Linked DNA regions of Homo sapiens. The protein of the gene in region 2 interacts with the protein of the main gene of each other region in a pairwise test. Each region holds a gene or a part of one and is shown on either strand. Other genes may lie near its edges.

The links.
Region 1: the proteins of KPNA6 (region 2) and IL1A interact in binary tests that used the Homo sapiens proteins (3 or more experiments, as listed by UniProt).

The regions. Positions count from the first base shown.
Region 1 is NC_000002.12:112,782,277-112,786,029, forward strand, and holds the start of IL1A (interleukin-1 alpha precursor), read right to left. Parts: upstream 2,218-3,753; 5' UTR 2,167-2,217; intron 2,125-2,166; exon of another isoform or gene 2,039-2,124; intron 1,503-2,038; 5' UTR 1,495-1,502; coding exon 1,448-1,494; intron 489-1,447; coding exon 440-488; intron 1-439. UniProt on the Homo sapiens protein: Cytokine constitutively present intracellularly in nearly all resting non-hematopoietic cells that plays an important role in inflammation and bridges the innate and adaptive immune systems.
Region 2 is NC_000001.11:32,152,905-32,156,557, reverse strand, and holds part of KPNA6 (importin subunit alpha-7), read right to left. Parts: intron 1,971-3,653; coding exon 1,837-1,970; intron 1-1,836. UniProt on the Homo sapiens protein: Functions in nuclear protein import as an adapter protein for nuclear receptor KPNB1. Binds specifically and directly to substrates containing either a simple or bipartite NLS motif.

The sequences.
Region 1 (3,753 bases), on a different chromosome or scaffold from region 2:
TGAGTGGCTGTAGACTTCTCACTTTCAACTGGCTTGCTTCCTCTCTCTCAGCTTCATGTTTGGAGACTTTCTCTAACCTCTGATGCTGGTGTCAGAGAAGACAACCACAACACATCACGTTAGGAGACAGACACCTGGTGAAGCGGCCTGCGGGGCCTTTCTCAGGATGGCATAACTAACATCCTGATGAAGCCTGCCCCAGGAGACTCCAGTTCTCAGGGATTTGGGATGGTTCTGCTCTGTTCTGGGAGAAGCCAATGCACATCAACTATTAGTTTAGAGAGGCAGCTGGTCTCACTTATAATGAAAGACAGGTCTCTGGACCTCTAGTGAGGGTAAAACAAAAGTATTGAAGATTCAAGTCATTGCTGTTCTCTTTGGATGAAGAAACCACTGTGTAAGAATAGCAGTCCCATGAGAATTACAGTCATTTGCTTACCTGATTCAGAGACAGATGATCAATGGAGGAACTGTCTTCTTCATTTTCACTGTCAAAATAAGATGATGAGAATGTAATTGTTGTTATTTCAGTGTGGTCTCTGGCCAATGTACTTTAATGACCATGATAGTTGTGGGTCACACACATACACATGGCCATTACTGTCATCTTTGAAATTTAAGGACTTCTACACATACACATAGGTAGAGTAATTCATATCTTACTAATCTGGAATTAGTAGTCATCAAGACAGGCTTTGAGCTTTACCTGTGCTTTATCTGTAAAAATTGGACTTGGCTAACAAATTGAAGAGCTTTAATTGAAGTTCAGGGAAGAATGTTAAGCTCCTTTAGAGAAAAGAAAGGTTTTGAAGCACTTCCTTTTTATTTTAACCAAATAGATTATATGTTACACATTACTTTCATGTATTCACTAAAACAGATTTCATAATTTATACTTAGTAAAATATCCAGGCAAAATTTTGACAGCCTAGTTTGTGTTAGTATTTACTACAGATAATGGAAACATCATGTTAGTTTAATATGTTCCGTAATTTTATCTTTGTGTTCATTTACCTTTCTTCTACATCTGAGTGAGATTTGCCTGCATATGTGAGTTCACATGCCCAGCTTGCTGTGGAGCCATTTCCTGTTCCTGAATGAGATCAAGTTTTCCTGAGAATGGACCAGTAAAACCCATTCTTATATCAGGGCATGTGATCTCAACAGAGGCTGTGTCTAAGTTGATGCTGATATTCATGTAGGGCTCAGCAGACCTCAAAAATAATTTTTCTAAAATGGCGGTCTCCCTGCCAATGTAATCTCAGTTTAACATGCTGAATGCTTAGTTTTTCTGGGTCTTCTCTGAACCTGCTCTGACTTCAGGACTAGTACACATCTCTACAACCTCTGCCGGCCTGCCCCCATGCTGGCCACTGTTATGCCTAGCTGGATTCTGGTGAGCCTTGAAACCCTCATTAAATCACAAGAGATAAATCTTATTCCTTACCTGTAACAGTTCTTCAGGTCTTCAAACATGTCTGGAACTTTGGCCATCTTGACTTCTGCAACAGAGAACACCAGCCACCATCAGCTCAGCCAGCCTCTAATCCAGATATCTGTGAGGGGAGCCCCTCCTCTTTGTGCTTCCTGAAAACTTTGTTGAATGACTTAGTCCACATTCAGCATTTTCTCCATCTTCTAGCTCCTTTGAATTAGTTTGCTATGTACCTGTCTCCTTTATTAGATCGTAAACTTCTTTTAGAATGTTTTATTTATGTTGGTATTCCTTATGTGCCCAACCTAATGTATTGCCAGAACAGGCATTCAATCAATGAAAGTTTGAAGAGGTTACAAAAACACCACAAGAATAAGGTATTTGCCTTACACAGAGGTAAGAGAGAGACAGAGTTGGAAATTTTCAATTTTCTCCTAATAATTTTGGATAGTAGAGATTCCCTCCCATGAGAAGCCTCAGTTGTATTCACCCATGCCCTCATAGGAAACTAGTTCTGCTGTCCCTCAGTATAACGAATCAGTCCTTATCAGCAAAATGAGAGAATCATTTTCTGAAATCTGACTGTAATTCTAGGTCACATACCAAACCAGGGAGGGACAAGAAAAGAAAGGAGAGGCTGTAGCTTTAGAGAAGGCAATGTGAGAGAAAACAGCCAAAGAGAAAAACAACAACAGAAAATACTTTAATAGCCAGAGATGTGAGGACAATACCTTTGCTGACTCAAACGCCAATGAAATGACTCCCTCTCTGGCTGGCAGCTTAAGCCTGAGTCAGTCTTCTTCGCCTTTTGTAATTGTCTTAAGTAGGCGTGGCTACGTGGCTACAAGTGCGTCGTCAAAACGGGGAATTTACAGGGAAGAATTCAGTTTTGTATTTTTCTATGTTCATTCAACTCGATACTGGCTAAAATAGTGAAAGATGGCATAGCTGATATTATTGTTGTTTGCAGATATTCCAGAAGTTATTGATTTGGTTCATTTATTCACCCCTTTGCTTTATAAGATGACAAACATGTAGTCTTAGAAAAAGGGAAGCGCGGGAAACTTATCAAGTTTCTAGGAGGAAGGGAGAAATCGTGAAATCCGAAGTCAAGGGGCTAGATTTGGAGAGGAATTTATTAATAATAATAGTTCTAATAGTAGCTGTAGTTGTGTTCTGGCTGAATTTGTTGATTGTGCTCCAGGGTGAATTGGCAGAATACTTGGCAGCTCCTGGCAACTTTTGAGGGAAAATGAGCCATCTTTTCTGAAGAGGGAAGTTTGCTTGATTAAGGCATAAATCACCTCAGAGTTTGGGGTGACAAGCTCCTGGTTAGGGCAGGGTAGAGAAGAGAACAGTGGTATTTGAGCACAAAGAAGTCTTGATCCTCTTACTCTTCTGAATATTGTCAACACATTTCCTATAGAGGGGATGGAGCTTCAGGAGAGAACTCTCCACCCTGGCCCTGTTACAGTAAAGTAGCCCTCTACCAAGGACCAGAGAGAAGCCTGGTCTTCTGTAGGATATGCCCAAGGTGTGTCTTCTGTAGAAGAAGGTGTGTGCAAGCCCCGGGAGGTATGCGTAAGGCCTCAGCCAGAAGCCAGTGGCTAAGTTTGGGAATGGAGATTGGGAGAAAGGAAGGCATGGATTTTTACATATGAGCCTTCAATGGTGTTGCCTGGTTACTATTATTAAAGAATTTCTCAGCTTTTATAATTCCTGTGGCCAGCCTAGTTCAGGTGGTAGAACACCAGACTCTTAGCAAATGAATGTTTTGGGTTCCCAGTTGGAGTTTAAGCCATGTATATTTTAAATAGAGGAAATGAACTAGGTGTGATGGCATGCCCCTGTAGTCCCAGCTATTCAGGAGGCTGAGGCAGGACAATCACTTGAGGCCCAGAGTTTTAGTCCAGTGTGGGCAACATAGTGAAGCCCCCATCTCTAAAAAATAATAAACGCAAAAAAGCATGGATCTGGGAGGAAAGCAGCTTGTGTGAGTTGGATAAAGTATTCCCTCTGTTCCTGTTTAATTGTAAATAATGGGGTTGGTTAGGTGTCATAAGGTCTATTGCAGGTGCAAAATCTCTTATTCTGATTTAATGCCAGTCTAATTCTCCTGGTCATAGACCTGGTGCTATAATAGTTATAACAGGAGCCACAGAAATAACCACACTTGGATGTAAGCAATGTAAGTGTAGCACCAGACTAGGGTAGAAGCTTGGGTGTCTAAGGATGAATCCTGAAGCAACAGTGATGCCAGCCAACTGGCTACATTTCTGCTTACCTTGGTTCCTCTTTAGGCAACACAGAAATGTTAA
Region 2 (3,653 bases):
GCCCAGGATGTGAACATCCTTTGTCCAGTGCATCCATTCCATGCTGTATACGCTGCTGCCAGTTAGTCACTTAATAACCAACTTGGTTATCAGGTGGCAATTGCTTGTGTTCAAGTAACCCTTATTTTACTTAGTAATAGCCACAAAGTGCAAGAGTAGTGATGCTGGCAATTCAAATGTGCCAAAGAGAAGCTGTAAAGTGCTTCCTTTAAGTAAAAAGATGAAAACATGAAAAAAAACATAGTATATGTAAGGTTCAGTAATATCTGCAGTTTCAGGCATCCACTGTGGGTCCTGGAATGTATTCCACAAAGAGAAGAGGAGACTATTGATTACTAACATGGAAAAGATATTCAAGGACTTGGAGGCAGAGGCAGCAGTGGGCCAAGATCACGCCACTGTACTCCAACCTGGGCAACAGGGCAAGATCCTGTCTTAAAAAAAAAAAAGAAAAAAAGGAATGATAGTATAGCAAAAGGGTGGGCAAAATCAGGTTAGGTTGGCCAGGCACAGTGGCGCATGCCTGCAATCCCAGCACTCTGGGAGGCCAGGGCAGGTGGATCACTTCAGCTCAGGAGTTCAAGACCAGCCTGGGCAACATGGCAAAACCCTGTCTGTACAAAAAAAAAAAAAAAAAAAAAATCCACAAAAATTAGCCGGGCGTGGTGGTACATGCCTATAGTCCAGCTATGCAGGAGGCTGAGGAAGAAGGATCACTTGAGCCCGGGAGCTTGAGGCTGCAGTGAGCTGAGATCATGTCACTCACTGCACTCACTGCACTCCAGCCTGGGTGACAGAGTGAGACCTTGTCTCAATAAATAAATAAATAAATAAATAAATAAATAAATAAATAATAATAATCAGGTGACTGAATCTGTTGGCGGGGTGGCGTAGGAGTGCAGATGGTGAGGCATTATTATAGTCTCAGGCTGGGCGTGGTGGCTTACGCCTGTAATCCCAGCACTATGGGAGGCTGAGGCGGGCAGATCTGGGCAGATCACAAGGTCAGGAGTTCGAGACCAGTCTGGCCAACATGGTGAAACCCAGTCTCTACCAAAAATATACAAAGTTAATTGGACGTGGTGGTACATGCCCGTAATCCTAGCTACTCGGGAGGCTAAGGCAGGAGAATTGCTTGAACCCAGGAGGCAGAGGTTGCAGTGAGCAGAGATCGTGCCATTGCACTCCAGCCTGGGTGACAGAATCAGACTCCGTCTCAAAAAAAAAAAAAGAAAAAAAAAAGAAAAGAAAAGGTAACAAGGAACTAGAACTAGAATGTTACAGTAAAGACATAAATGATGTCTAAGTTGGTCTAACTTGTGAAAAGGGGATAAGGTCAGTTTTCTCTTTCTCAAAGCTCCCAACATTTATTTACAACAAAGGAAACTGGATGAGTAGCTCACTCAGTAAGTAAGCTACTTTTCTTTTTTTTTTTTTTTTTTTTTTTGAGATGGAGTTTCACTCTTGTTGCCCAGGCTGGAGTGCAATGGCACGAACTCAGCTCCTGCAACCTCCGCCTCCCAGGTTCAAGCAATTCTCCTGCTTCAGCCTCCCAAGTAGCTGAGATTGCAGGCGCATGCCACCACGTCCGGCTAATTTCTGTATTTTTAGTAGAGAAAATGAAGTTTCACCATGTTGGCCAGGCTGGTCTTGAACTCCTGACCTCAGGTGATCTGCCTGCCTTGGCCTCCCAAAGTGCTGGGATTACAGACATGAGCCACCATGCCCACCTAGTAAGCTACTTTTCTACAGGGCAAGTCAGGGTGCATGGTGGAGGCCAACCATAGGGGCTTGTTTCCCAGAATAGTATGTTTGAGAATACTCCCATTAACTCACTTGTTGCTCTCGCTTCTGCTTCCGGAGCTGAATGCCCTCTTCCTCTCTTCTTCGTCTCATTTCTTCAGGGTTTAGAGCATTGTTCTTATAGCTCTTCATTCGATAATTGTCTTTCCCTGGGCTCGCCATGGTCTCTAGAAGAAAAGATACACACTGCCAAAAACTCTTGAGAGGACAGCATTTCCTTTTCACTAGACTTCTATCCCTACCCACCCTTCACCCTCCCCTACTCTGGGGGGAATACAGCTCTCTGGGAGCTCTCAATAGCACCTGACATCTCTACCCACCCCCCAGCCCCAGTATCTTTTAATTACAATAAGCTTGCTAAACAGGTGGTATTAAAGCAATTGGTATAAGCTTAGTAGTTAAAAGTGTGGGCCCTAGAGACAGATTGTCTGGGTTCACATCCTGACCCTTCTACTTGTTAGCTGTGCAACCTTGGACAAGCTCCTGTAACTTTTATTGCTTCAGAATTTAATCTTTAATAAAACAGGAACACATCAGGCACAGTGGCTCCCACCCGTAATCCCAGGGGTCTGCAGACCATACTTTGAGAAATGCTGTTTTTTTTTTTTGAGACAGGGTCTCACTCTGTCACCCAGGCTGGAGTGCAGTGGCACGGTATCGACTCACTGCAACCTCTGCCTCCTGGGCTCACGTGATTCTCCTGCCTCAGCCTTCCGAGTAGCTGGGATTACAGGCGCACACCACCACAACTGGTTAATTTTTATATTTTTAGTAGAGACGGGGTCTCACCATGTTGGCCAGGCTGGTCTCAAACTCCTGACCTCAGGTGATCCACCTGCCTTGGCCTCCCAAAGTGCTGGGACTATAGGCATGAGCAACCACGTCCAGCCAAGAACTGCTGTTCTAAGCAGTGAATTACTCAGTTGTAGGTAAATAAATGTTAACTTGACCAGCTAGTGCCAAAGTTGTCTTCCATAGTACTGCCACTGACAAATATCTTGACCAATACTTTTGACAATCTACTGGGTGTCATAAAGTATTTCACAGAGATGATTATTTGCATATCCCAGATTACTAATGAGGTTAGATTTCATGTTGTTATTAGCTATATGTTTCCCCTTCTGTGAAAAATGTTTGTTTCTGTATTTTTAAATATTTTTCTTCTTTTTTTTTTTTTTTTTTTGAGACAGAGTTTCACTTTTGTTGCCCAGGCTGGAGTGCAATGGCACCATCTTGACTCACTGCAACCTATGCCACCCAGATTCAAATGATTCTCCTGCCTCACCCTCCTGAGTAGCTGGGACTACAGGTGCCTGCCACCACGCCTAATACGGCTAATTTTTGTATTTTTAGTAGAGACGGGGTTTCACCATGTTGGCCAGGCTGATCTCGAACTCCTGACCTCAGGTGAACTGCCTGCCTCGGCCTCCCAAAGTGCTGGGATTACAGGCATGAGCCACTGCGCCTGGCCTGTTCACGTTCTTTTAAATCAGTTATCTGTGACTGTGTACTTTCTTCATCCTTAATATTGTCTTATTTGTGCCCTCTTTTGTTCCTGAGAACCTTTACCAGAGACTTGACTATTTTTATTTTAGTCTTTTGCAAGATCCAAGTTTTAGCTTCATTGAGTCTTCTCTACTATATGATTTCTATCCCCTTTCTACATTTTTTCTAATTTAAGTTGTATATCTAAGTAATTAAATGTTCACACTATACTTTTTTTTTTTTTTTTTTTTTTGAGATGGAGTCTCACTCTGTCACCCAGGCTGGAGTGCAGTGGCGCGATCTTGGCTCACTGCAACCCTCCGCCTCCTGGGTTCATGTGATTCTCCTGCCTCAGCCTCCCAAGC